3 linked regions of the Homo sapiens genome follow. The protein of the gene in region 2 purifies or fractionates together with the protein of the main gene of each other region. This does not show direct contact. Each region holds a gene or a part of one and is shown on either strand. Other genes may lie near its edges.

The links. Proteins that work in one complex are often made in the same cells at the same time.
Region 1: the proteins of CGNL1 (region 2) and HMMR purify together in Homo sapiens (affinity purification with mass spectrometry; 2 studies listed by BioGRID and IntAct, with this or other methods). This does not show direct contact.
Region 3: the proteins of CGNL1 (region 2) and NDE1 purify together in Homo sapiens (affinity purification with mass spectrometry; 2 studies listed by BioGRID and IntAct, with this or other methods). This does not show direct contact.

What each region holds. Positions count from the first base shown.
Region 1 is NC_000005.10:163,470,604-163,477,644, forward strand, and holds part of HMMR (hyaluronan mediated motility receptor), read left to right. Parts: intron 1-581; coding exon 582-668; intron 669-759; coding exon 760-860; intron 861-2,575; coding exon 2,576-2,650; intron 2,651-2,775; coding exon 2,776-2,954; intron 2,955-3,453; coding exon 3,454-3,602; intron 3,603-4,854; coding exon 4,855-5,069; intron 5,070-7,041. UniProt on the Homo sapiens protein: Receptor for hyaluronic acid (HA). Involved in cell motility. When hyaluronan binds to HMMR, the phosphorylation of a number of proteins, including PTK2/FAK1 occurs.
Region 2 is NC_000015.10:57,435,496-57,442,536, reverse strand, and holds part of CGNL1 (cingulin-like protein 1), read right to left. Parts: intron 4,553-7,041; 5' UTR 4,538-4,552; coding exon 2,936-4,537; intron 2,161-2,935; coding exon 2,066-2,160; intron 165-2,065; coding exon 59-164; intron 1-58. UniProt on the Homo sapiens protein: May be involved in anchoring the apical junctional complex, especially tight junctions, to actin-based cytoskeletons.
Region 3 is NC_000016.10:15,653,217-15,660,257, forward strand, and holds part of NDE1 (nuclear distribution protein nudE homolog 1), read left to right. Parts: intron 1-7,041. UniProt on the Homo sapiens protein: Required for centrosome duplication and formation and function of the mitotic spindle. Essential for the development of the cerebral cortex.

The DNA of each region.
Region 1 (7,041 bases), on a different chromosome or scaffold from region 2:
ACACGGCACTCCAGCCTGGGTGACAGAGTGAGACTCTGTCTTACAAAAATAAAATAAAAATAAACCAGCAAGTCACATTAAGGAAAAGAGGGATAAGAACAGTAGACTGGTACAGTGGCTCATGCCTGTATTTCCAGCATTTTGGAAGGCTGAGGGCTGGAGAATTGCTTGAGGCCAGGAGTTTGAGACCAGCCTGGGCAACATATCAAGACCCCATCTCTATAAACAAATTGAAAAATTAGCTAGGCATGGTGGTGGTGCACACCGGTAATCCCAGCTACTCAGGAAGATGAGGCAGGAGGATTGATTGAGCCCAGGAGTTTGAGATTATAGCGAGCTATGATCATGCCACTCCACTCTAGCCTGGACAGCGGAGCGAGACTTGATCTCTTAAAAAGAAAAGAAAAAAAAATTAAATCAATCAGTAATTATGGTGTAGGTCAAAGACTGTTCTCTCTACCAAAGTATATTAAAGTCAAAAACATAACCCCAGTGATAGGTAGAAAAATCAATATTTGTGTATTTTAAATATGTCTTAGCAGAAAATATTTCTGAATTTTTTACGTGTTTGTTGTATTTAGTTTTCTGAAAATGGTAACCAGAAGAATTTGAGAATTCTAAGCTTGGAGTTGATGAAACTTAGAAACAAAAGAGAAACAAAGATGAGGGTGAGTGCTGCCCTTGGCAGGTTTGCTGTGTCTGGATCTGGGGATCAGTACAACTTTCTCATTTCCTAAAACAGGTATCTTTGTTGTGTAGGGTATGATGGCTAAGCAAGAAGGCATGGAGATGAAGCTGCAGGTCACCCAAAGGAGTCTCGAAGAGTCTCAAGGGAAAATAGCCCAACTGGAGGGAAAACTGTAAGTGAGTGAATGTGAAGAGAAATTGTTAAGTGGAAGCAATTCTTGATTTGAGTCTCTTCACAAATTATTGTTTACTGAGACTTCAACCTTCTGTTAGTACTTATCTCATTGCCTCCCTCCAGTTGCCCTATTTCTCTTTTTAAACTAGAATGAGCCCTAATCATTCTCAAACATGTTGTGCTACAAAGTTGTATGAGTGCATTACTTTTGTACATCTTCTGTATTATTAATGATGAGGAAAGATTTCATGATCTTATGAAAGTGGTCATTAGATTGAAATTGAGAAACACTGGTATAGGAAATTGTGATTTATGCACAATCCTAGCCTTTGATTTTGAGCTTTAATATACATATAATAAAATGTGTGGATAGTAAGTATTCAGTTTGGTGACTTTAGCAATTGTATACACCTACGTAACCACTACCAAACAAGATAGAGAACATTTTCATCCCTTCAGAAAGTTCCTTCATACCCCTTCTTGTCCCCCTGCTACTGCCTATGTCATGTCCCCATCCCCATAACTACTTTCTCACTTACATCATCATAAATTAGCTTTGCCTTTTTTTATTTATTATTATTATTATTTATTTTTTTTTTTAGAGATGGGGCATTGCTTTGTTACTCAGGCTGGTCTCATACTCCTGGACTCAAGTGATACCACCCTGGCCTTCAGAGTGCTGGAGTTATAGACATGGGCCACTATACCTGGCCAGTTTTGCCTTTTTTTAGGACATGCAAAAGAGAAAGAGCATGTGTGTGTGTTGCTTCTTTTGTTTGATGTAATTTTTCAAGATTCATCCAAACCGTTCTGTATACTGTAATTTTTCCTATTTTATTTCTGAGTAGTGGTTCACCTTATGAATATACCTCCATCTCTTTACTCTTCTCCTTTTGATCATTATTTGGGCTGTTGCCAGTGTCTGCCATTAAAAAGACTGCTGTGAACATGTTTTATGTTTTTTTATGGACACGTTTTTATTTCTCAGAGAAATTTCTAGGAGTAGAATTCTTGGGTAATAGGGTAGTGTATATATAATGTTTTTTAAAACTCAGAAGTGTTTTTGCCATTTTTATACACCCCCTGGCAATGTATGATAGTTTCAGTTGTTCCAGATTCTCACCAACATTTAATGTTGTCAGTCTGTTTGATTTTAGCCTTTCTACTAGGTAGGAAGTGGTATCTCCTTTGTGATTTTAATTTGTTACCATGAATGTTGACCTTATTTTTATGTGCTTATTGACCATTTTATGTGCATATCACCTTTTGCAAGGTGTCTATTGAAGTCTTTTGTCCATTTCTTGCATTGGACAGTTTGGTGGAGGTAAACAGATAAGTAATTGAAGACCAGGTAGTCTGGGACAAAAGCTTTATGGGCACACAAAATGCTATTTAGTATGTTGGATGGGTGGGGAAACCAGGAAGACCACAAAAAGAATATTATTTCTAACACTTGGGATACTGTAATGATGGTTCTTGTCATCATAGGTTTTTTTGTCAGTATATATTCAGAAAACTTTCTCACTTAAATAAAAATTTTAGTCTTCTATTTTGATGTAAATTGTGAATTTGAGAAATTACATAAAATAATAGTTAAGAGTTAGGGCTCTGTAGTCAGCCTGCCTGATACAGGAGTATCTGGTACATAAGCATTATGTAAGATTATTAAATAACGAAACTAGAATGTATTAACATATGCAATTTTTGTTTTAGTGTTTCAATAGAGAAAGAAAAGATTGATGAAAAATCTGAAACAGAAAAACTCTTGGAATACATCGAAGAAATTAGGTAATATGAGCAGTAGCTTTAAATTGAACCTTATTTTTTTAATACTCAGTCATTTTCATCATTTTTCTGTTATTTTCCCTGTGCCTAAATAGATGTGCTTTTTAAGATAATTTGTTTTAATGCAGTTGTGCTTCAGATCAAGTGGAAAAATACAAGCTAGATATTGCCCAGTTAGAAGAAAATTTGAAAGAGAAGAATGATGAAATTTTAAGCCTTAAGCAGTCTCTTGAGGAGAATATTGTTATATTATCTAAACAAGTAGAAGATCTAAATGTGAAATGTCAGCTGCTTGAAAAAGAAAAAGGTATTACAGTGTTTTATAGTTACTTTGTTTAGATAAGTGTTACATACAACATTTAGGAAAAATACTACTATGCTAAAACAACCTTTTAAATATAATTAGCTATACTAACATTTTAAATATAATTAGCTATATAGCTATACAACAGCAAAAACCTGTACTGCATTTTAGAATATTTTACTCTTATAATGTTTGTTTTCTGTTTATTTCAATACAGCATATTACCTGTCTTGATTGAAATATATACAGTCATATAATTCTTGACTTTTCCACTAGGTGGCTGTGTAACAATCAGTAGATAACACAGAACAAGATTTGTGGGTTTTATTATTTAGCACATAGTATATATTACATGGAGTAATGATACAAAGTTCACAGTTTTGTTTTCTTCTTTGGAAATACCATGCTAAAAGCAGTGTAATGGAATATTATGGGAGTCCAGGTTTCTCAGTCTTAATGTTCTTATCTAATTCCAGTATTCTTGATGTTTTGCGTTTTCTAGAAGACCATGTCAACAGGAATAGAGAACACAACGAAAATCTAAATGCAGAGATGCAAAACTTAAAACAGAAGTTTATTCTTGAACAACAGGAACGTGAAAAGCTTCAACAAAAAGAATTACAAATTGATTCACTTCTGCAACAAGAGAAAGTAATTTACCACCATATTTTTTTAAACTGTTCATTTTGTGTCATACATTTCCCTATGTCTCTGAACACCTTTAAATTGTGTATATCCTTTGATCTACCAATTCTATCTTTAGAGTCTTATCCTGAGGACATAATCATGGATATGCTGAGGATTTAGCTACGTATTTTCACTACATGTTCACCCTAGGGTTATGAATAATGTGGGAAAATGACAACAGATACAGCAAAATAGGGAATTTTTAAAAAATTTTCTGGCTCATTCTTGTGTTATTTAGGCTATATAAACATTTACACTTACCTTGTAAAAGACTGTCTAATTACAGAAGAAACAAAGCAATTTTTAAAATCCAGATTATTTATAGAACATTTTACATATCAGTGAGAAGAAAGAAAGTCCACTGAAAAATTATGGGCATAGGATGGAAACAGAGAAGGAGAAGTTCTGGCCTGTAAATATAGAAAGATACTCCACCTTAGTAGTAACCAAGGAAGTAGAAATAATATTTTTTTCACTTACAAAATTGGCACAAATTAAAACATTTGATAACACAAAATACTGGTGAGAGTTAAGCCAACAGGTACTTACATGCACTGATGTGAAATATTATAGTGTTGGACAACCTACAACAGCTAAAGGAATTGAGTAGATCTATATACACTGACCTGGAAAGATTTCAGCAACAGAGTATATATCATTTATATCCCTCCCCAAATGTATATGTATATATAAGTGTAAAGAAAAATACCAGAAGGCATATATATTCCAAACTAGTAGCTATCTCTGCAATGGGAAAACTAAAATTAGGGGGGGAAGTCGTCAAAGATAATATTAACATCATTTGTAATGTTAGAATTATTTCACAATGGTGATGTATTTGTATATTGTATAGCTTAAAAAATAATTTTATGTAATATGGAAATCACCACACACTTTTTACATAATATGTGAAAAATAATGTTAATATCAAAGCCAGTTGTAAAACAGATATATATATATAAAATATAATTTTAGATTAAGAAGTTTCTGCATGTGCGTTGCATAGAAAAAAGCCTAAGATGATATTTGCCACAATGTTAACAAGGTATAGGAAATAATCTATGAAAACAAATATGCTATTTCTATATTGTTTTAAGTTTCCTTGAATCTGTTGAATTTAGGTTTCATCCTTCTTTATCTGTACTTTTTTTTGTCTCCTAGTACAACCTCACAATGCCATTCCAAATTATTTTGGTGGTTTTCTGTTTGGATATAGGAATTATCTTCGAGTCTTCATCAGAAGCTCTGTTCTTTTCAAGAGGAAATGGTTAAAGAGAAGAATCTGTTTGAGGAAGAATTAAAGCAAACACTGGATGAGCTTGATAAATTACAGCAAAAGGAGGAACAAGCTGAAAGGCTGGTCAAGCAATTGGAAGAGGAAGCAAAATCTAGAGCTGAAGAATTAAAACTCCTAGAAGAAAAGCTGAAAGGGTTTGTATTAATAGGATCTCATGTTTATGTATGACTTCAGATGTATTTATTTTGAGTACTTTTTTTAGTATTCTCTTATCAATCATGTGAGCGTGTTAGGTTGGAATTATTTTATAATTAAGTAGTAATTATTAATTATTTTACAATTAAGTAGTAGACACAGAATGTGAACACAAAATGTACATGCAAACAAGTAAGACAGCCCCCTCTTTTAAGTTAAAAGTTAAAGGTTTTGCCCCCTTTTTTTAAGGCCAAAGAGAGTTTAAATAAACAAATGACAAAAGTTTTACACTTCTTTACTACTCTGCTAATTTCTGAAATTTATTGAACATCAGCATTAGAACAATAATCAACTCAGGGCTGGATGTGGTGGCTGATGCCTGCAATTCCCATACTTTGGGATGCCAAGGTGAGAGGACTGCTTGAGCTCAGGAGTTTGAGACCAGCCTGTGCAATATAGTGAGACCTCGTCTCTACTAAAAATTAAAAAAAAAACTAGCTGGGCACGGTGGTGTGTGCCTGTAGTCCCAGCTACTTAGAAAGTTGTGGGAGGAGAATCACTTAAGCCCACGAGATTAAGGCTGCAGTTAGCCGTGATCACGTCACTGCACTCTAGCCTGAGCAACAGAGTGAGACTCTGTCTCAAAAACAAACAAAACACAATAATGAACTTGGGGGAAAAAAATAAAGAATCCCTCCCATTAATAAATAGCATTCCCATTTTTGTCTATGCACTTACATAGTGTAAGTTATACCTTTAATTACATTTTTCCGGGAGCACAAACACTTCAGAAATAGCAATCAAAATGCAAAGCAGGCTGGCACAATGGCACATGCCTAAAGTCCCAGCTACTCAGGAGGCTGAGATGGGAGGATCTTTAGAGCCCAGGAGTTTGAGGCTGTAATGCTCAACGATTATACCTGTTAATAGCCATGGCACTCTAGCCTGGGCAACGTAGCACAAGATGCCACCTCAATCAATAACTGATAAAAAGCAAATGAGAAAAAATAATTATAACTGGGAAACATTCAGAAGTAAGAAATCTCTTATTTACAGTAGAAAGACTGAAATCTTGGCTGGGTGCGGTGGCTCACACCTGTAATCCCACCACTTTGGGAAGCCAAGGCAGCGAGATCACAAGGTCAGGAGTTCGAGACCAGCCTGGCCAACATGGTGAAACCCCATCTCTACTAAAAATACATAGTAAATTAGCCTGGCATCGTGGCGCACGCCTGTAATCCCAGCTATTCAGGAGGCTGAGGCAGGAGAATTGCTTGAACCCAGGAGGCGGAGGTTGTGGTGAGCTGACATCGCACCACTGCACTCCAGCCTGGGCGACAGAGGGAGACTGTGTCCCAAAAACAAAAGAAAAACTGAAATCTCACTTTTTTCCCGAACTCTAGTTCCTTATAATTTCTGCCACATTATGTTTCCTTCTCCCATACACTTATTTATTTCATTTTGTTTTGTTTTGTCCATAGTAATTGCTAATTTTTTATTTATTAAGAGAAACTATTCCTTAGCCTACATATTCATATTTCATAGTTCAGGAACACAGGTTAGTGACAAACACTACTACATTTATTTAAATTAAAAAGTCTGATTTGATTCTTGAGTTCAAATTGCAAATATTTAAATCCTTGGGATCTGATCATTAAAACACTTGTTGTCAAAGGACTGTGGGCTAGATATGAGTTTGTATTATTGTAATATATCTCACACCTGTGTATCTGTCTCAGTGGATACTTTTGTTATTAATCTTTTCTGTTTTCTTATGATTAGTGATGCAAATGAACAGCAAGGTTTTTCATATCCCTGCTTTTGGGGGAACAATACAAAATTGTAATTAGGGGTGTTGTTCTATACTACAGCCAATCTCAGGGAACAGGAATCTTGGGAAAATAAGATAATGTCATTTTAAGAGAGGAAAGAAAATTGAGATAATTTTTTATTCCAACTCAAAAAACTGTG
Region 2 (7,041 bases):
AGTTGTTTACCACATTCCATGCTAAATGCACTCTACAAAATACAAAACTTCCATTTACTTGGTTATTTCCTTGGGCGCTCCCAGCTGCTCGAGACTTTAAGGTCTGGATTTTCTCAAAGACCAAGTTGACTTTCCTTTTAGTAGCATCGTCATTATCAGTGCTTCTGAAAAAGGGACAGCAGAGAAAACAATGAGGGACACAACCACTGGTCTCAGAACAATTTATATGTCATGACACACACCCAACAGGTCCTTTAAGGAGATAATTTGCAGGAGCTGTGAATTAATTAAAGCCTCAGACAAAATCAGTGTGAGAGTAGGATGGATGGTGTCTTTTTTTTTTTTTTTTTTTTTCAAATAAATGATGTGTTACCACTCAATTTGGGACAGGGTTCCCACTTGCAAATATGTGAGAGGCACATAAACACATCCTCAGTAAGCTTGGAGAAGACACCCAGTGAACATTTAGTAATTTGTTGTTTGATTCAAATGCTCATGTCCATTCCAAAAAGAATTCTCCTTTTCTTTGAAGTGCGTATGTGTATATCTCTCTCACACACACAAACATGCTGTACATCTGAATCTTACACTAAGAATGATCTACAATGATCTTAATTTGTTTAACCTATGTTTAAAAAAATAAAACCCCTAAGCCAAGATTATCAGCATGGCAGCCCTTTGTCTGGGCTTTCACAGGTAACACGGAGATACTAAGTTTTATTAACTTCTACCACACCGTCAGCAATTAGAAGAAAAAGATTTAAAATAAACTTCCTTCAACAGGCACCTCCCACTAAAGTCTGTCTTACCAATGTCTCAATAAATCATGTGCCAAAAAATACATACATAAAAGAATTTAATGAATTTTGGCCAGGTGCGGTGGCTCACGTCTGTCATCTCAGCACTTTGGGAGGCAGATGCTGGTGGATCACTTGAGGTCAGGAGTTTGAGATTATCCTTGCCAATATGATGAAACTGTGTCTCTACTAAAAATACAAAAATTAGCCAGACATGGTGGCGCACACCTATAATCCCAGCTACTCAGGTGGCTGAGGCAGGAGAATCTCTTGAACCTGGGAGGTGGGGGTTGCAGTGAGCCAAGATCATGCCACCGCATTCCAGCCTGGATGACAGAGTGAGACTCTGTCCCAAAAAATAAAAAAAAAATAATGAATTTTAAAAGTCAAGATTTCTTCTACCTTAATCTTAACATGGTAAAGTCTTCCACAGGGAGATACTAATAACCAGTTCTTAGCTAGATTAATCTTTCAGGTTACTTTTTTTTTCCCCCTTTCAAAAGATCCCCTGTTTTATATTTTGAGCCTTACTATGTTGTTAGCTCTAAAACTGACAAATAATTGTAAGGCACAATACAAAAATATACAGTATTTTGATACCAATGAGGATTTGCCAAGTGGCTGGTTTTCAGTCATGTAGGCTGTAAAGCTTTTTTTTTTTTTTTTGTCCTTCCTCTTAATCACATCTGTTGAGAGAACTGAAACAGAAACCTCAAATTCCTTGCTCAAGTTCCAGCACAGTTAGTATCTAAGTAAGGGCTGAAACCCTGATTATTCCACCTCAACCACCAAGATAAGCATGGAAAGCACTGCTTTTAAATGACTCACACATGCTTTAAAAATAATGGAAGCAGGGGCTCTTGGCCAATGTTAACTCTGGGGAGGGGAGGTGTTTTTATTTGTAACTTCTAAAGGACTACCACATTGCACGGAAGAACTCAAGGTGATGGCGGACTCCATTCAAACCTGAAGAGTAGAAACTCCTCCTATCTTTGAATTTGCTTTTGAAATAGTAAAGGGTCACTTTAAAAATGTATTCATTTTAATTTTTAAAGTATGGTGTCCTTTCCTACACACCCCTCCCAAAGCCCCCACCCCATACCACACAAGACAAATGCCGTCACGAAAACCCCAGCCATTGAGTTTTAACCCTCCAACGGCTGGCACAGGGCAAGAAAGGAAGGTAACCATTAAAGCCTCGGAAAAGGAAATTAAGAGTCCCACCAGAAACAACAATACTTTGCTCTTTCAGAGGGAAAATCACTAACCCTTCTTTGAGGTAATTGTAGAGAATCTGCTTAGCTGTCTCCTCATTGGTTTGCTGAGTGAGCTCTTGCTGGCCCTTTAAGAGATCCGGTGTGGCCTGGAACATAAGGCCTGTTGTTAGACCATGAGGATGAAGTTCCCAGAGGCTTCCAAACACCAAACAATTCCTCCAGTGAGCATCCTTCTTAGAGCCAGTTACAACATTTACCAGCTTCATAATCTTGGGGAAGTTACTTAACTTCTCCTCGCCTCAATTTTCTCACCTGTAAATTGAGGTTAATAGGTACTACCTGCACAGGGTTGGTGCAATCCTGTAATATATAACAAACAGTGCCTAGCACTTAGCTACTTTTTTTTTTTTTTTACCATTTTATCAATATCATTATTTTTTATTGTTACTATCAAAACACTAAATGTGCCACTTAGATTCTCACTTGACAATTAACCTAAATGAAAATTAACCTAATTTTTCAGGCTAGAAATTAACCCAGTCACTCAATTTTATGAGGAAAATTAATATACCTACACAAACCTAACTATTCAGCCTCTGTGTAGAAACAAATTCTGCATACTTTCAGATTTCATGCATACACAAACAGAACAATTGAGCCTCTCTGTAGCGTCTGCCAAGTTACTTTACAGAGAGATCACAATGGGAATCCAGCTGAACTTCAAAGAACCCAGAAAACTATACAATTGGCAGTAGGACATCGTCAGTAGGACACAACTGGATCCTGAAACAGATCAGCTGTGTGATTCCTGATACAAGATTGAGGATGTGTAATTCCTATGGCCTCCTGCAGCATAAGTACATCATTACATTATTTAGAAGGAAGAGAAAAAAAACCAAACAGGAATCGCACTAGTGTTACCTGAGTATTTGAGGCCGAAGGAAATGTCTTCACGGAAATTTTCTTGGCACCAGAATCAGGCGAAGTTGCTGTTGCCCGGTTCTGTAACATCAGCGTAGCGGTGGCTGTTTTCACCTCCTCCTCCTTTTTACTCTGTGCACCAAGGGAGGGCGCACGGATCACTGTACTTTCCTGACTACCTTCGGTTTCCAGAACTTTCCCATCTATGTTCGGCTGGGGAGGCCTGGAGTGGGCACATGAAGCCCCGTGCGCTGCTCCCTGCAGCTTTGCAAAGGTGCGGCCCACGCTCTGTTTCCCACGGCGCTCCTGAGACAGTGGCCGCTGCGGGCACACCTGGGAAGGCCGGAGGAGGTGTTCGCTTGACTTGCCCAAGTTCCTACTGAATTCAATCAGGTACTCCGAGTTCCCTTGGAGGCCAAAAGGAAAGGCGCTATCCACGCTTCTGGATCTTTTCCTGTCATCTGTATTAATTCTGTTTCGCTTCCCAGACCTTCCTCTTCTCTGAAGCCCAGGTTTTTGATCAAATTTTTCAATTAACTGATCCACACCAGGAATTGATCCTGTATCAATATCCCGTCCAGTTCCTGGCAGGAAGGGAATATACCTTCTGTTTTCATGACGATTGACGTTGTCGGCATGGATGGCACATTCCTGATCATCCAGTAAAAACCTGTACAAAGAGTTGGCTGACGTGGGAGTTGTGGATGACGAGGAGGACCTCCGGGACCGAGCTCCATCCAGGACGGGTCCCGCTGAATCCTGTCGCCGGAAGGGAAGAACATCTGGCCTGGTTTTCTTGGTTTCAGGGTGGGCATGTGGGCTGTGGGCAGTCAGGGGCCTCCCGCTAGTGAAAAGGGCCTCCTCTCCCACCCTCTCCTTGGTGCAGCTCTGAACGTTTACACACACTGAGGTCTGCTTTTTGGGGTCCTCTATGACCACGGAGCTGCATAAACGAATAGCTGTCACACCAGATTTGGCCGGGTCTTCCAAGGAGGGACTGGTAGGCTGGGAATTGCTAGGTTTGGGAAAGCAAGTCCAAGGCTTCTTATTGTTGATGCCTTCTTCTGTCAACGTTTTTAGCCAATTACTCTCAGAAGGCTGGTGATTTTGTAAATTCAACTCATTCTTTTCAGGGTCATAGGGTTGCAAAAGCTCTGGATGCCTCTGAAAGTTCAGCAGGTGAGATGGCTTCACAGACCCGTCTTTGCGATCTAGAACTCCATTCTTGCCCTCATGGAGCAGGGGCTGTTTCAGGTTTCTTATTGGGCTAGGCTGGGCGTATGGGTTTTCTGGAAGCTGAAGTTCTTCACTGTTCTCCTTTGGCACAGAACCATTGCTGGAATGTAGAGGCAGGTTATTTATCACTGGAGGTGGAAAGGGTGGCCCATTTTCAGAAAACGATGTGCCTGCTAGGCACCGTTCTGTGTTATTCAGGACAATATAGGGGTGACCATCAATTCCCTGGACCCGAATACTGACACCGTAGGAGCCTGCCTTGGAGTTCTGGGAACTCCTTGATTTTTGGGTATCATCACTTGCGAGTCTCAGATGGACCCCATATTCCTGCTGCACATGTTGATATTCACCGAAATACAGCTCCATGGTTCACTGTTCCAGCTACCAGGGAGAGATGGGGTAAAAAGAGGACATTAGGTTAGAATTACATCTGTTTAAATGAAGACTGAAATAATTAGGAAGGGGAAACTTCAAAGTTCAAAGAAAACAAGACATTTTAAACAGCAAAGACACCTCAGAACCAAGTGCTGAAGGGCAGCCCTCTGGTGACCCAGCAGGACTTTCTGGATGCCCTTCAGCCCACGTGGCCACTGAGTTTGTCACCACTGGGTTTGAACCCTGGCCTGAGGGCAGACAACCCGTGTAATGACCTGACACTTTTGGCGTAGCTTCATTATTCTGACTTTGTTATTCTGTTTTGGGCTGTTCTGGTTGCCTTTTTTTTTTTTTTTTTTTTTTTTTTTTTTGCTGTTTAGTTGGTTTCCTGAAACTTTATGCTGTTTATTTTTAACCAATAGGATGTTCCAGTTACCAGCATTTGAGAACTAGGTACTTTTCCATGAAAATAATTAAGAGCTAAGGAATTCTGACGCTCACCATTTTTCTTTGTTACTCTGCAGTTCATTTTCCTCTCAAAACACTTTCAGCCTTTTTTACCCACAATCTTGCTGCAAAATCTTTAACACTACTATTTGAATATAATGTTTCCAACACTTTTACCATAAGGAATCAGTTGTTTGTGAGACTGACAGTGAAATTAAATGATTATAAATCATTTTCAATCTTTTCTTCTTAGCAAAAAAGTTCAATAGCATATTGATCTGGAAAATATTATTTAAAAAATGAAGAACACTCAGGGCTCTGTGTTTTGTGATGGGTCCTGATGCCAAGAATAGTTGCCGTTGCCTTTCTGGTGTGTGGCCAACCTTGCCAGATGACTGCAGAGAGCTCACCAAGCAGGATGCTCACCCTGCCTCACACTCCGAGGTTCCTCACCAGAAATTCACTTCTAACACTTTGCAAAACAGCAATGGCAAAGGGACTCCAGGAAGAACAGTAGCAACTGGTCACAAATAACAGTTGTCTTTTTTTTTTTCCACTTTTGAGAGACTTTTTGAGTTTTCTTTCTATTCTAGAGTCAATCTACTAGCACATTTTCCAAGAAAATCATCTATTCCATCCAATTTTCAAATTTATTTGCAGAATTTGGGTAGGATAAATCATTTATTATCTAATGTTGTGTTTTCTTCTATTTCTTGATTACACTGGTAGAATATATATGTGTATGTATTTTTTTAAATTGTTTCCCTAAAGAACTAGCTCCTGGATTTATCAAGCATTTTTTTCTTTAATTTTCAACTTTACTGAGTTCTAGTTTGATTTTTATTATTTCCTTCCACTTTCCTTTGTTTTATTTTGTTGTTCTATTTCTGACTCCTTGACTTGGACGCTTTACTTGTTTATTTTCATTCTTTAATCACATAAATTGTGGTTTGTAACTATGTCACTTAAAAATTATGTCAGTTCCTACTAATAGACTCCCCACATAGCAGCTTAAGACAGGAACTTTTCCCCAGAGATAGGAAGTCTAGGACTGAAAGAGACCCTGGGATAAGGAGCACCCCTTCTATCTTTCCACTCATCTGTCTTTAACATGTGATTAAAGATAGCTTATGATTATGATTACAAGATAGCTGATCCAGCATCACATAGCCCAAAAGCTTAGGCCAAGTGACTCAACCTTCTTTTTAAATAGCTTTCCTGGAATCCCCACCTAACAATAATCCCTTATATCTTATTAGTGAGAACTTAATCATATGGCCACCCCCAGCCGCAAGGGAGACTGGAAAATAGGGTACTTAAGCTGGTCATCAACATGCAACAAAATCAATGTTCTGTTAGTAAAAAGAGAGAGGAGAATGGACTTTAGAAAGGCAGTAAACAGTTTCCACCACAGTAATGTTTCTATTACTATTTTCTAGATAGTTTCTCTTTGGGGTTTTGATTTCTGCTTTGACCCAAGATTTGATTCTGAGAAAGTTGTTGCATATGTAGTATTTTGTTGCTGTGCTGTTTTTGTTTGGAGGGTCTTTATTTGTAAATGTTGCTAATCTCTACCTGTATTGTGGTCAGAAAATGAAGTCTCTACCATTTCTTCCTTTTTAAATATATTGAGCTTCCCTCTGTGAGCAAATATACGGATAATGTTTGTCAATGCTTCACAGGTACTAGGTGTAGTCTCCATTTTAAGGGATAACATTCAAAATCTATCCATCTGTACAACCTTAATAATTATGTTGTTTGGCTCTAGCACATCTTTACTTGTTTTGTCTCTCTGTTCTGTCTTGGGGCTTTCTGAATATATTCAGTTTCCTACCAGTAGCATAGTGTTGTCAGTTTTGCTTGGTGATAATTCTTTTAAATCTCAAACATTTTAGCTACTATCATTTACCACTTTAAAGATAGGAACAACTCAGAGAGGTACATTCATCTGTAATATTTATCATTATCTCACCAATTCCAAATATTTCATTGTCAACTTTCATTTTCAGTTATACTAGTATTTTTAAATAATTTATTTTTTAATCAAA
Region 3 (7,041 bases), on a different chromosome or scaffold from region 2:
GTCCTCTGTTGACATTGAGGTTTCCAGTTTTCCACATTCGTGAATGATGGTGTGCATCTTTGAACATGGGTCCTTGCCTGCCTAAGTATTTTTGTAGGTTGATCATTGTAAACTTGGAAAGCACAAAGACAGAAGCCAGGCTTGCTGACTCTTGACTGATGTTGCCCCAGTGATGTCACTCCTGCAAAATGCAAAGCCTGCGTCCTGGCTGTCGGAGCATGTGTGGACATTTGGCAGCTTCTTTCTCTTCCCTCCTGCTCTTCTGTTTGTTTTGATTGGGAAGGATATGGAGTGGGGATGGAGAAGGGTGTTGAGTAATTATCGATGGTTTCTGTATGTTTATTGCTCCTGACTAGCAGTGCTGGGTTTCTTCTCTCAGAGGAAAGCTGAAAGAGATTGCTTTGCTTTTTTCCAGAGTTTTAAAATCAGAGGTGTGTGTCTCGAGTGTATTTTCAGACTTTTTTGTTAGCTTTAATCATGTAAAACATGCAAAAAAAAAAAAAGCATGTGGAAACAATTTTTTTTTTTTGAGACGGGTTCTCGCTCTGTCACACAGGCTGGAGTGCTGTGGGGCGATCTCGGCTCACTGCAACCACCGCCTCCCATGCTCAAGTGATCCTCCCACCTCAGCCTCCTGAGTAGCTGGGACCACAGGTGTGCATCACCACACCTGGCTAATTTTTTTGTGTTTTTGGTAGAGATGGGGTTTCACCATGTTGCCCAGGCTGGTCTCTTATCTGCTGACCTCAGGTGATCTGCCTGCCTCACCCTCCCAAAGTGCTGGGATTACAGGCATGAGCCACCACACCCGGCCGGAAACAAATTTTTGAAGGAGGCATAGATCTCTGTTGTGCAAAATAGATACTTTTTGTACCACTGGGTCCTAGTTTGTCATTGTTCCTTGCATGATCCCATCAGATTTGTCTACAGAGCTGCTGGGGCATGATGGTGTGGTGGCGTATTAAGAACGCAGGTTAGTGGCACACAGATGAAATAAATGCATGTGGGGTGCATTTTTAAGATAGCAGGTGCAAAGTTGTATATACTGAGACCAGGCATTAACACTTGCCTATTACAGTGCCTTTTAAAACACTATGTGAGGGCCGGGTGCAATGGCTCACACCTGTAATCCCAGCACTTTGGGAGGCCTAGGTGGGCAGATCACCTGAGGTCAGGAGATCGAGACCAGCCTGGCCAACGTGGCGAAACCCCGTCTCTCCTAAAAATACAAAAAATTAGCCAGTCGTGGTGGCATGCACCTGTAATCCGAGGTACTAGGGACGCTGAGGTAGGAGAATCGCTTGAAGCTGCGAGGCAGAGGTTGCAGTGAGCTGAGATCACACCACTGCACTCCAGCCTGGGCAACAGAGAAAGAGATTCCGACTCAAAAAAAAAAAAAACAAAAAAAAAAAAAACAAAACTGGACCAAATGAAACAAGTGAATCTGATCTGCAGTCAGTCAGTTTGCAACCCCTGGGAAGCCTTGGACTTGAATGCAAAGATCCCTTGAACTTGGATCTAGTTTGCCTCTGCTGCTCACATGCACATTTAGAGATGGCCAAGGCATACGGTGTTTCTGCTTCCAAGAAACAGAGTGGTTGTCCTGTTTAGCCATCTCTTACAGTCACACAGCTTAAAGAAGATAATGTTTGCAAACAATTTTTGAAATGTCTAGCACACAGCAAACAGAAGGTCAAATTCAGTACTTAATGCTGATAAAATAAGAGAACCCTTGCAAGTCATGTTGCCTGCTTTCTGCCACAGAGAGTACTGCAATAGAACTTTCTGACGTTTTCATGTTGTTTATTTATTTATTTTTTGAGACAGAGTCTTGCTCTTGTGCCCAGGCTGGAGTGCAGTGGTACAATTTCTGCTCACTGCAACCTCTGCCTCTGGGTTCAAGCAATTCTTGGGCCTCAGCCACCCAAGTAGCTGGAATTATAGGTGCGCTCTACCACACCTGGCTAATTTTTGTGTTTCTAGTAGAGACAGGGTTTCACCATGTTGCCCAGGCTGGTCTTGAACCCCTGGGCTCAAGCAATCCACCCACCTCAGCCTCCCAAAGTGCTGGGACTACAGGCGTGCATCGTGACGCCCTGCTGATTTGTGTATTTTTAGTAGAGACGGGGTTCACCTTGTGCTGGTCTCAAACTCCTGGGCTCAAGCAATCTGCCCACCTCAGTCTGCCAAAGTGCTGGGATTACAGGCGTGAGCCATCGTGCCCGGCCTCTCTCTGACATTTTTGAATGGCAAAGGCAAAAATCTTATACTTTTAAGGATGTGGAGAAATAGGAACACTTTTACACTGTTGGTGGGACTGTAAACTAGTTCAACCATTGTAGAAGTCAGTGTGGTGATTCCTCAGGGATCTAGAACTGGAAATACCATTTGACCCAGCCATCGCATTACTGGGTATATACCCAAAGGACTATAAATCATGCTTCTATAAAGACACATGCACACGTATGTTTATTGCGGCATTATTCACAATAGCAAAGACTTGGAACCAACCCAAATGTCCAGCAATGATAGACTGGATTAAGAAAACGTGGCACATATACACCATGGAATACTATGCAGCCATAAAAAATGATGAGTTCATGTCCTTTGTAGGGACATGGATGAAATTGGAAATCATCATTCTCAGTAAACTATTGCAAGAACAAAAAACCAAACACCGCATATTCTCACTCATAGGTGGGAATTGAACAACGAGAACACATGGACACAGGAAGGGGAACATCACACTCTGGGGACTGTTGTGGGGTGGGGGGAGGGGGGAGGGATAGCATTGGGAGATATACCTAATGCTAGATGACGAGTTAGTGGGTGCAGCACACCAGCATGGCACATGTATACATATGTAACTAACCTGCACATTGTGCACATGTACCCTAAAACTTAAAGTATAATAATAATAAAGAAAAAGAAAAAAAAAGATTGCTGTTTTATGATAAAGTGAAGTGCAGCTGTTACTTCTTCCTTCTTTGCTTCCAGCATCTCTCTTCCCTAAGGATTGCTTTTAAAATGTAAGAGTTTTTGGTTGAAATGCTGTTCCTGTGGTTTTTGTCTCTTGGTTGGAGTGAAAGATTTTGCAGGCTGTGATACAAATCCAGTTCTCTGCTTATTTTCTCCTCAGTCCTTGAAATCCAAAACCAGATCCCTCCCATTGGCCCGTTGTAATTAGAACCTGCCCCACAATAGACGCACCTCCTAAAGCATCTCAGATTCATTTCTTTCCTGAGGATTAAGTTTTTAAACCTTCCTGGCCAAGATAACAGTGTTTTAAGAGGCTCTTTTCTTTTATTATTATTATTATTATTATTACTCTTTTCTTTTTTTGAGATGGAGTCTTGCTCTGTCACCCAGGCTGGAGTGCAGTGGCAGGATCTCTGCTCACTGGAACCTCCACCTCCCGGGTTCAAGAGTTTCTTCTGTTTCAGCCTCCTGAGTAGATGGGATTACAGGCATGTGCCACCATGCCCAGCTAATTTTTGTATTTTTAGCAGAGATGGGGTTTTACCATGTTGGCCAGGCTGGTCTCGAACTCCTGGCTTCAAGTGATCTACCCGCTGTGGCCTCCCAAAGTATCAGGATTACAGGCATGAGCCACAGCACCCTGCCAGGCTTGGGTGTTCAAGGAAGAGAAAGAAGGCAGTGTGGCTGGGACATAAGTGAATGAGAGGTGGTAGGGTAAGAAATGTGTAGAAAACTATGCAGGGGCCTGATCACATTGGATCTTGCACATCTTTTTCCAAACCTCAGGAGGAGTCATTCTGCTTTTGTTGTTACTGGTTCCTCACTTCCGCACTTTATTGTATGCTGACAACCTTCCATACCATGGGACTGAGACTGCCCTCAATAGTATCACCAATGTCTTTTTTTGTTTTTTTTTTTTGAGGCAGAGTTTCACTCTTGTCGTCCAGGTTGGAGTGCAATGGCGTGATCTTGGCTCACTGCAACCTCCGCCTCCTGGGTTCAAGCGATTTTCCTGCCTCAGTCTTCCGAGTAGCTGGGGTTACAGGAGCCTGCCACCACACCTGGCTAATTTCTTGTATTTTTAGTGGAAATGGAGTTTCACCATGTTGGCCAGGCTGGTCTTGAACTCCTGACCTCAGGTGAACCACCCGCCTTGGCTTCCCAAAGTGTTGGGATTACAGGCATGAGCCAACGCACCCAGCCACCAATATCTTAATGGCCACACAGTGCTCATTGATAGATGCCTTGGCCCTGGGCTATTGTTGCTATAGAATTGGTTTGATGAGTACATATTACATGAGATCTGGGCTCATTAGAGCTTATGGCTTGAGCAGGGACTCCTTGGCCTAGGTTTATGCTGCTCCTGGCCTTGTTAATGACTGCTATTAACACTCTACCCCCTTTTTATTTTTTTGAGATGGGGTCTTGTTCTGTCGCCCAGGCTGGGAGGCTGGAATGCAGTGATCTTGGCTCACTGCAGCCTCCGCTTCTCAGGCTTAAGTGATTTTTCCTGCTTCATCCTTCTGAGTAGCTGGGACTACAGGCACGCACCGCCGTGCCCGTTTGATTTTTGTTTTTGTTTTTTTAGTAGACACGGGGTTTCACCATGTTGCCCAGGCTGGTCTCAAACTCCTGACCTCAAGTGATCTGTCTGCCTCGGCCTCACAAAGGGCTGGGATTACAGGCATGAGCCATTGCGCCAGGCACCACTCTACCCTTTTGACTTTGAGCAAGTAAGGTCGTTGATTCCATACATTCATTAAGATTCCTGCGTGGCAGAAATCTAACCCCAACTGGTATAACCAAGACAAGGAATTGATTATCTCATAACCTTAAATCAGGTGTGGCTGCATCTAGGTGTTCAAATGATATTGTCAGGACCCAGGCTCTCCATCCCTTGGCCCAGCTTTCCTCTGTTTTGGCTTCACTCTGAGGCAGGCTCTCCCTTGTGATAGCAAGATGACCACCGGCAGTTTCAGGCTTACCTCCGGCTTCAGGCTTACCTCCAGCTTCAGGCTTACCTTACCAACCCTAGTGGAAAGAGAGTTTCATTTTTGACAGCTATGCAAAAGGTCTGGACCTGGGCCCTCACTGGCTTAGTATGGGTTAGGCCCATCCTTAAGCCAATCATTGGCTCAGCATGGGTTAGATCCGTGACTGTCACTGGCTGAGCATGGGGGTTAGGCTCACCCTATCATTGGCTCTGCGTGAATTAGGCCCACCTCTGTCACTGGCTCATCGTGGGTTAGGCCCACCCATGAGCTGATCACTAAGGTCGTGAATAGGCATATGCCTCTTCCCAGGTGTGGAGGATGATGTCAGATCCCTCTGAACTCATGAAATGAGTAGGGTATTCTCCCAAGGGAATATTGTGCTGTCACAGAAGATGGAAAAATGAATGCATGTCTGGAAAAAACAAGCAAAACTACAAATCATTAGCTTTATATGACATTTATTTATTTTTTGTTTATATGTTTTTGAAATGGAGTCTTGCTCTGTTGCCCAGGCTGGAGTGCAGTGGTGTGATCGTGGTTCACTGCAACCTCTGGCTCCCGGGTTCAAGCGATTCTCATGCCTTAGCCTCCCGAGTAGTTGGGATCATAGGTGCCTGCCACCACACCCAGCTAATTTTTGTGCTTTTAGTGTAGACAGGATTTTACCATGTTGGCCAAGCTTGTCTTGAACTCTTGACCTCAAGTCATCTGCCTGCCTCAGCTTCCCAAAGTGTTGAGATTACAGGCATGAGCCACCACGTCTGGCCAGCTTTGTATGACATTTCGCCTTTCTGCCTTGATCAAACTTTCAGAGAATCTGCTTTCCAGAGGGATGAGTGGGTCGGGAAATAGCATGTTTTCTCTGAATGAGGGAAAGGATTGAAAAAGTAGGAGGGAGAAAGGATGTGAATATGAGTCCCAACAAATGCAGAGTTATCGGTAAGTTTTGTGCTTGAATCTAGGTACAATTGTGCATTTCCTGGTTCTGCATGAATTAGGCCCACCTCTGTCATTGGCTCAACATGGGTGAGGCTCACTAACTTCCACCAGAAGTTAGTGGTGGTGTCTGTGTTGACACTTACATGTTTAGCCTAATGATTTCATGTTTTAACCAAAACTATATAGCTTGTTGGTTATATCTTAGAAAGTGATGGTTTTTGCTCATTCTTTTGTCCCCAGGGATACACACCAGCCTCTAAGTTCTCTTGAGGGAAGGAAGGGACCTTGCACACAATCTTTTTTTTTTTTTTTTTTTTTTTTTTTTTGAGAGGAAGTCTCACTCTGTCACCCAGGCTGGAGTGCAGTGGTGCGATCTCGGCTCACTACAACCTCTGCCTTCTGGGTTCAAGTGATTCTCCCGCCTCAGCCTCCCGAGTAGTGGGGATTACAGGCGCACACCACCATGCCCGGCTAATTTTTATATTTTTAGTAGAGATGGGGTTTCAGTGTGTTGGCCAGGCTGGTTTCAGACTCCTGAGCTCAGGTGATTCACCTGCCCTGGCCTCCCAAAGTACTGGGATTACAGGTGTGAGCCACTGCGCCCGGCCTTGGACACAATCTTTTTTTTTTTTTTTTTTGAGACGGAGTCTCGCTCTGTCACTCAGGCTGGAGTGCAGTGGCACGATCTCAGCTCATTGCAACCTCCACCTCCTGGGTTCAAGCAATTCTCCTGCCTTAGCCGCCTGAGTAGCTGGGACTACAGGTACCTGCCACTGCGCCCGCCTAATTTTTGTATTTTTAGTAGAGATGGGGTTTCACCATATTGGCCAGGCTGGTCTCAAACTCCTGACCTTGTGATCTGCCCGCCTCGGCCTCCCAAAGTGCTGGGATTACAGATGCGAGCCACTGAGTCTGGCCTGGACACAATCTTACTTGGATTCCTCATGCCCTTTTGACAAGCTCAGAGCCTCAAATAAATTCAGAAAATAGGTGATTACATCAAACAGCCTCTATCAACAGGGAGTATACAAACCGTTAGCCCAACTGTTAATAGAAGTCTGCTTTCTTGCTGGGTGTGGTGGCTCACACCTAGAATCCTAGTGCTTTGGGAGTACAAGGCAGGAGGATC